Regions from separate parts of the Homo sapiens genome. Here region 1 is linked to region 2. A link means that fine-mapping ties the variant in region 2 to the expression of a gene that starts in the linked region. Tissue or cell type: activated CD8 T cells. Region 2 holds a variant in brackets; the other region holds the start of a gene. All regions are shown on one strand. Distances are between the middles of the regions.

What was found. PIP is the estimated chance that this variant, and not a neighbour inherited with it, causes the effect.
Region 1: ZFPM1 starts here. The variant in region 2 is fine-mapped to the expression of ZFPM1 in activated CD8 T cells (Schmiedel 2018, PIP 0.95).

The regions. Positions count from the first base shown.
Region 1 is chr16:88,451,621-88,455,723 of GRCh38, forward strand. ZFPM1 (zinc finger protein, FOG family member 1) reads left to right here and starts at 1,660. Exons shown (of 10, transcript NM_153813.3): 1 at 1,660-2,058. The coding sequence starts at 2,019. RefSeq lists silencers at 1,385-1,684, 1,695-1,784, 2,245-2,374, 2,595-2,664, 3,605-4,103.
Region 2 is chr16:88,308,960-88,313,062 of GRCh38, forward strand. It overlaps a transcript of ZNF469 not described here. Among named protein-coding and RNA genes, the nearest start is that of ZNF469, 72 kb to the right of the region's middle. RefSeq lists an enhancer at 1-353. The variant AT/A (reference allele first, on the strand shown) is at 1,604.

The DNA.
Region 1 (4,103 bases), 140 kb after region 2:
CCCAGACAGGTAGGTGCTCCATCCAGTTGACAAGCACTGGGTGGGGGCGGGAGGGTGGGGGGGAGGTCCTAGGTTGAGTGAACCAATCAGACATGGGCCCCACCCCCTCCAGAGAGCAGCTGTGGGAAGGCTGTGCCCACTGGACCCTGGCAGAGAGCAGGAAGGGCTGGAGGACCCGTATGCCCCTGGGCAGCTCTCTTGGCCTCCTGGTCTCAGTGTTCCTGTCTGTCCATGGCAGTGGGGAGGGACGGCGCATATCCAGTGTTGTACCCCTGCCTCTCCTACCCACCCGCCACTCTCCTGTACCAGGCTCTGAGGGTAAGCCCCCACTTCTCCCCTTCCTTGGAGCCAGGGAATAGGTCACAGAAGTTGGCACGAGATGGGGTCTTAGGAGCTCCCAGCAGGCTGGCGGGTGGTGTGACAGTCCTGCTGTGCGATGATCTCATCATCAGGTGGGAGGGGTCCTTCCTGTCTGCCCCTGGGCCCACTGACGCCCGTTTCTTATGAGTACGGGGGATGGGGGAGCAGGTAGCAAGTGTAGACCGAGAACATTAAAAGGAGATGATACAACTCAGCTGGGAGTGGGGGACAGCCCCCCAATGCGTGACCTTGAGCAAGTCCCCGAGCCTCCGTGAAGTGGGGCTCTTGAACACACCCCAGAGGGCAACAGTTCTCCATTTCCAGGCCTGAGCTGACAGCACCGCGCCCACAAACCTCGCTGACCTCTGACTGCTCCGAGAGGGGGCTGTGGCCCGGGCGCTGTGGGCAACTCCTTCGTGGGTCTCCTGCGGGGCGCCCTGGAGAGGCTCGGTGAGGAAAGAGGCCCCAAGTGGCAACGCCCAGGGCTGCCGGCTCCCGCGCCCCCTCCTCGATTTCCAGCCTGGTCTGAGCTCACAGGGGAAGACCCGAGATCCTGCTCTCAGTTGGCGGACCCCACCGCAGTCTGGGACGGAAGCCCCCTCCCTGGCCCGAATCCGCTCCACACCCCAAGTCTGGCCCAAGAGAAACGTGGGCGTCAAGGCCTCGGGCTTCCTGAGCCGGTTGTCACTGCCCCCACCGCGCACGTGGAGCGTGCGGCAGAGCCCAGGGGTCTAGGGAGGGACCAAGGGCTGGGGGCGGAGTTACAGTGCGGGGGCGGAGCCTCGGCGTCTCAGGACCCAACCAGGTCGGGTCAGGTTTGGAGGCGGAGCTGGCGCCGAGAGGCGGGGCGCAGGATGCGGTGCCGCGGGGCAGCAGAACAGAACCGAATAGGTCTCAGACTCCCAGCGCGGCCTGGGGACATGACCTCCGGGCCAAAGAGGAGTGGGGGAGGCTAGAGGTCTCCCCGGGGCGCGGGCGGGGCCGAACCAGGAAGGGGCGGGGCATCGAGCGGGGCGGGGACAGTGCCTTGAAGGCCCAGACGGACAGGGGCGGGGCCGCAGCGCTGGGGTCGGAGCCAGCGCCGTAAAGAGCGAGGCGGGCGGGGGCGCGGTCGCGGCTCTGGGGGCGGAGCCAGAGCAACGAAGAGCCGGGCTGGCGGGGGCGTGGCCGCGGCGCTGGGGGCGGAGCCGGAGAGGTGCAGGGCCCGGCAGGAGGCACGGGGCGGGGCCGGAGCGCCGGGGGCGGGGCGGGAGGTGCGGCGGCCGACGACGCTCAGGCCCGGCCCCGCCCCGTGCCTCCAGCCCGCCAGGAGCGCCCTCGCAGTGGCCGCCTGCTCCGCCGCTCGCCGCCCGCGGGTTCCATTGAGAAAAGCCGAGCGGCCGCGGCGGCGGCGGCGAGTGCGCGGGAGCGGAGGAGCCGGCACCCGCCCGTCGGGCAGTCCGCGCGCCCGCAACGCAGGACCGTGGCCTCTCGGGCCTCCGCGGCAGCTCCAGCGGCTCCGGGGCTGGGCGCGCGGGCTGGGGGCGCGGGCCGGGGCGGCCGCGGAGACCGGGGGCCGGGGGCATGAGCGGCCCCGCGGCCCCGCCGCGCCCCCGCCGCCCGCCGCCGCCCGCCCGGGGCTAGAGGCGGCCGCCGGGAGGGCGCGCGGCGCCGGAGACATGTCCAGGCGGAAACAGAGCAACCCCCGGCAGATCAAGCGTGAGTCAAACTTTGCCCGCGGTCCCCTCCGCGCGCCCGACCCCCGCCGGAGCCCAGCCGCCAGCGCCGCCCCCGCCCGTCCCCGCTCTGCCCTGGGCGCCGGCGACCTTCACCCCGCGCCGCGCCCCCCGCGCTGTGCCAAGCGCGCCGTAATCTAATCTCCGCCGGCGGCCTGGGCCCCCGCGTCTCGGCTTGGGCACCGGGGGGTTCAGCCCAGGAGGGGGCCGCCCGGAGGCCGGGAGGAGGGTGTTTGGGGGCGCGGCCCGGGCAGCTCGGCCCCTCGCGGCCTGCCCCTCCCCCGCATCTGCGAGATGGTGCGGCGATAGGGCGGCCCCGATCTGGGCTCAGATAAAGTTTAAAATATTACATTCTGCAAGTCCCGTCCTGATAAGATCGTTCTGTCGGGACGGGCTGAAATTGTGATCTTATCTCGCGCGGTTGACTCTCCCAGGCTTTGTATCTAGAAGCGAAGAGAGAGACCTGGGAGGCAGAGGGGACACCCGGGGCCGCGGAGATGCCTGGCCAAGTGGCAGGCACCGGCCCGCGCCCACCCCCACCGGTGCCGTCGCAGAGCCGCAGGACAGGGGAGGGGGTAGCGCGCAGCTGCCGCAGCCTAGGCACTTGGCTCCAGCCCCCCAGACACCCCCACCCCGTGCCCTAGCGCTGAAGTCCTGAACCCAGGCCCCGCCAGCCTGGTGACACCTCCTGGACCCTGCAAGTGTCCCAGCCAAGGCGGCATGGGCAACAAATGGTGCCCTCGGATGCCCGCGGGCACCCCCTGGCATCCCAATGGGCTGCTCTGAGTCAGAGAAGGGCCTCCCAGGACGCAGCCCCGGGCCGGGGTCGCCCCTGCACGCCACTAAGTTTCTCGCTGGTCCGGCTCCCTGCCCGGTCAGAGGCTGCTGCCCCGCCGCCACATTGCCAGTGCCCCCGCGATGAGAACTAAGCTGTCGGGGCCACTGTCTGGCCTGGGCCTCTGGGCTGTGCCAGGAGGGAGCAAGAGCACAGGAAGCTACCCTCCCCACCCTATGCCAATAATAACTTTGCGCCTCACAGTTAGGGCCCAGACGCAGGTCTTCCTCCCCGGGGCGCCTCCCCGGAGCCTGACGGGCAGGTCGTCTGAGCCCTGCCAGGAGGCCACGACGGAAACCCGCCCGCTGCCCAGCCGTAGGCGCCCGGGCACTACCTCCTTTGTCCACACGACCACTGCCACCAGGACCCCTTGTGCGGGGCCTGTGGGAGCTTCCCTACTCAGGAGGTCTCCCGAGGCGGGGGTCACAGGCATGAACCGGTTCCCGTAACCCAACTCCCTCAGCGCAAACGGGACCTGTTTTCCGAAAGTCGCCTTCTATCGTGTCAACTCAAGTATTAAAAGCCACCCACAGGTCCCGATCCGCGCTTGTGCTCTGGTTTCTTTTTCCTTCCTTCCCTGAGCGCCTATGTTCGGTTCTGGGGTGTGTGTGTGTGTGTGTGTGTGTGTGTGTGTGTGTGTGTGGTGTTTCACTGTGATGAGAAATGCAGATAGCTCGGACAGGGAGATCGCAGGTTGGAAACCGATCTCCAGCGCTGATAAGGCCGCCAGCGCCAGCGAGAGCCCGTAGCCCAGCCCAGCGGGGCGGGCAGAGCGCGCGCACTTTGGGAACTGGGACCGCGGCGGGTGCACGGTGAGCCACCGCGGCCCATCCTCGTTGCGGCCCGGGACCGGGGCAGAGAAAGGGCCCGGACGAGGAAGGCAGGGCCGCGGACCCTCCCTGTCGCTCGCGGCCCGGGGCGCCTCCTCCCCATGGCAGATCTCAGCACGTTAAGATGCGAAGGCTGATTGTCACCAAGCGGCGGCGCCCGCCCGCCCGCCCTCTTGCCAGCGCCTGTGCCTGCCCGCTGCCCTGGCCTCACCTGCGGCCGGGCCGCGAGTGCAGAGCGGAGGGGGCCGAGCGCTTCGGGCCGCCCACCCCCCACCCGCGCCCCCATCAAAGCCCTGGCGCAGCTGCCCGCGCCTCTGTGCGCCTTTTGTTCCGTGCGGAGATAGATGTGCCGCGCTGATAAGG
Region 2 (4,103 bases):
GGCTTGAGGTCCCCCCAGTGGCCCTGCTGAGCCACCGTGCAAAGGGCTCCCAACCTTCCTTCCTTTCCTCTCCCCTGCCCAGGGCCCAGACCCACGTCCCGACTGGACCTTCTCCCAACCTCCCAGGCTCCTGCCCCGGTTTTCTCACAGATTTTCCCCTAGTGAGTCTCTCATACCTGATCCTGCCCTGTGCGTGTTGCCCAGAGGCCTAAGGCTGATGCTCACCTCTCAGGGGAAGGAGGAAGGCCTCATAAGTGTCACAGCCTGGAGGAGTGGGCTCCGTGGTGGTGTGCTGGCAATTTGAGGAGGGTGGGACAGCGGTGACCTGTGGTGGCCAGCCCTACAGGGACACCTCCGAGCTGGGCCAGGAGGAGCACAGTGTTCAGGACACCTGACGGGGGGAGTGCCCTCTGAGGTCCCCTGTCAGTGTTCAGGACACCTGGTGGGGGGAGTGCCCTCTGAGGTCCCCTCTCGGTGTTCAGGACACCTGACGCGGGGAGTACCCTCTGAGGTCCCCTCTCGGTGTTCAGGACACCTGACGGGGGGAGTGCCCTCTGAGGTCCCGTCTCGGTGTTCAGGACACCTGATGGGGGGAGTACCCTCTGAGGTCCCCTCTCGGTGTTCAGGACAACTGGCGGGGGTAGTGCCCTCTGAGGTCCCCTGTCAGTGTTCAGGACACCTGATGGGGGGAGTGCCCTTTGAGGTGCCCTGTCAGTGTTCAGGACATCTGACGGGGGGAGTGCCCTCTGAGGTGCCCTCTCAGTGTTCAGGACACCTGGCGGGGGGGTGCCCTCTGAGGTGCCCTCTCGGTGCCAGGGAGTGTGGTTCACTCTCCTCAAATGCTGGCCTCCAAGCCCCTCTGTCCTGTCCCTGGGATCAAAATAACAAAGCATCAGGGCCACTCTGTTAAGGCAGAAACAACCCACGTGGCAGGAGTCAGCTGTAACCTGAGGGCCTGCCCCTGCCAGAGGCCAGATCCCTCCACTGCCCAGGGTAGCCTGGCTTTGAAGAGTCAGGTCCATGACCCACCCGTGTTGTAAAACCCTTCCTAGAATCAGAAGAGCAATAACAGGTGTGCAATTCCTGTGCACTGAGTGGCCTGAGAGGGAGGGCGCTATGGGGAGCAGGGGTGCCCTCCAGTGGTGCAGTGGGGGCAGGGAGAAGCCAATGGGGAGGGAAGGGGTCATCAGGTGGGACAGCCTGGCATGAGAGCAAATCTCTGCAGAACCCTCAGATTACACGGAGGACATCAGCTTCAGGCACCTGCTGACTTCCTCACCACCCCCAAACTCTGAGGCAGGAGAGGTTGGGGGAGGGAAGCAGAATTTCTTTGGGGAGCTGGGGGGTGGGAGCTGTTGGCTAAGACACAAGGCAGTGCCTCCCACTGCTTAAATTTTAGGGTGGCCATGAAAGGCAGAAATAAGGGTGTGCCTGGGGCTCTGGTCACATCTCACAAGTCACACATCTAACACAGCCCTGCGTGCTGCCCCTTCTTCCCGGTGGAACCATTTGCACACAAAAGTGATAGCTGCACTTCCCCCTTTGTTTTTCTGTAGCCTGTGTCTTGGATCTTGTTCCTTGACAGTACCTTGTCCTTCATTTT[AT/A]TTTTTTTTTTTTATTAATTTTATTTATTTACTTTCTGAGACAGAGTCTCGCTCTGTTGCCCAGGCTGGAGTGCAGCAGCGCGATCTCGGCTCACTGCAACCTCCACCTCCTGGGTTCAAGCGATTCTCCTGCCTCAACCTCCTGAGTAGGGATTACAGGTGTGCGCCACCATGCCCAACTAATCTTAGTATTTTTAGTAGAGACCGGGTTTCACCATTTTGGCCAGGCTGCTGCTTTTTATTTTTAATAGGCTTTTTAAAAGAGCAGTTTTAGATTTACAGAAAAATCGAGAAGATGGCATAGAGTTTCTACTTGCCCTGCGCCCAACTGTCCACATCTCACCCTCTCACGGTGCCTTTGTTGTCACTGATGAACCCAACACTGATCCATCCTCATTCACCGTGCACCCTCACAGCCTCCTCCTGCACCAGGACCACATCCGGATCCCACCCAGGATTTGCTCGTCACGCCTCCCTCGGCTCCTCTCCAACTCCTTGTTTTTGAGGATCTTGACAGTTTTGAGGACCGCCTGGGCATTTTGTGGATCATCCCTCAATTGGGATTGTCTAGTGTTTTTCTCATGGTTAGACTACAGCGATGAATCACTGGGAGGAAGACCCTGGGGGCGAAGTGCCCATCTCACCACATCCCCTCAGGGGTCTACATCATCAACAGGATGCATCGCAGGGGACATTGACCTTGGCCACCTGGCTGAGGCCTCACTCTTTTTAAAGCTGAAACTGCAGGTCCCCAGGCTTTTATCCAAACCCTGGAGCTCGACAGGCTTTTTATTTCAGAGCTCAGGATTTTAGAAATGTAATGTACATTTACACAGCACTCCCATGGGATCCAGGGAAATAACCCATAAGAAAGCCCATGACTGTTTCTGCACTGAAACATGAATATTTACCCTGATTGGAGAAGCAGAGAAAATAAACAGTCTCACTGCAAATTTCCAAGCAAGTTCCAGAAGAACTTTTGTGGGGACTTCAGAACAGCTAGTAAGGGATGGTGGCCTGCCCTCCGTCAGTGGTTCATTCTATAACTTACTGTGCTGGGCTCCAACTGAGGGGTGTCTGGTGGTTTCAGGGCTGTCCCTGCAGCGTTGCAGAGACAGTCCTAGTGTGGAAGTCTCTGTGAGTACCTGCCAGGTAGATTTCTGGGAGGCCACACTTGGCCCCAGGTTTTTGTGTCTTAAACTTGGATTGAGTTGGCCAAGTCGTTCGCCAACAAGGACATATTGATTTGCATTTTCGCAATGATATAGCCTGGGGCTTGTTCCTGAAGCTGCGTGCTTTCAAATGATTGATTGTGGAACACCTGATGGTGAAATCTCATTGGCTGCTTGTATTAGTCCATTCTCACACTGCTGATGAAGACATACCCAAGACTGGGTAATTTATAAAGGAAAGAAGTTTAATGAACTCACAGTTCCACATGGCTGTGGAGGCCTCACATTCATGGCAGAAGACAAAGGAAGAGCAAAGGCACATCTTACATGGCAGCTGGCAAAGAGAGAATGAAAACCAAGTGAAAGGGGTTTCCCAGTATAAACCCATCAGATCTCATGAGACTTCTTCAGTACCATGAGAACAGTATGGGGGAAACCACCCCCATGATTCAATTATCTCCCACCTGGTCCCTCCCACAACACAAGGGAATTATGGGAACTACAGTTCAAGATGAGATTTGGGTGGGGACACAGCCAAAGCCTATCAGTACGGTAGTTCTAATTCCCAGGAGGCTCAGCCTGTTCTCATGTGGTTATAGGTTGCTGGGATTTACCTTCTTGCACCAGCTTCTCAGGCCATTTGCCCATTTGTCTCTTGACGGGTTGGTCTGTAACTTACTCTTTTTGTTGTTTCTTTAATCCCCTGTTTCTGATATATAAGTTGCCAAATTTCTCCCCAATTCTTCACTTGCTCGTGTGCCTGTGTTTTGTTCATTTGTGTTGGCTTTAAGACCCTTATTTTATGTGGTCACATATACCCACCTCCTTTTAAGCTTCCTGTGTTTTGTTTCATTCTTCAAAAGGCCTTGCGCATGCTGAAATTATTTTGTTAGAAACATCTTTCATGATTTCTTCTAGTGCTTTTGTTTTTTTGCCCTTAAGTCTTTGATTTGAGGGAGAGACGCCATTTTTCCTTTGTCTAGGGGGTGAGCCAGCTGTGCCAAGACCATTTGAAATGCTGCCTTTACAACGCAGTCAATGCGTCTGCCTTGTTCCACTGATGGGTCCACCCATCTTCATACCAGCCCCAAACCGCATTTTACTACAGTAGCTTTGCAAGCCATGCTGGTGCGCCATGGACTCCACGCCTCCATGCCCTCACGAATTATTCTAGGATGGCCTGGATGTTTATTTTTCCATATGAACTTTAGACTCAACTTACTTAGTTCCAGAAATAATTGTTGGTATAGGAAAAAGGAGCTGATTGACTCTGCAGCCTGATCTAGGGATAACTGACATATTTGTTATTATCGTGGCTCCTGGTCAG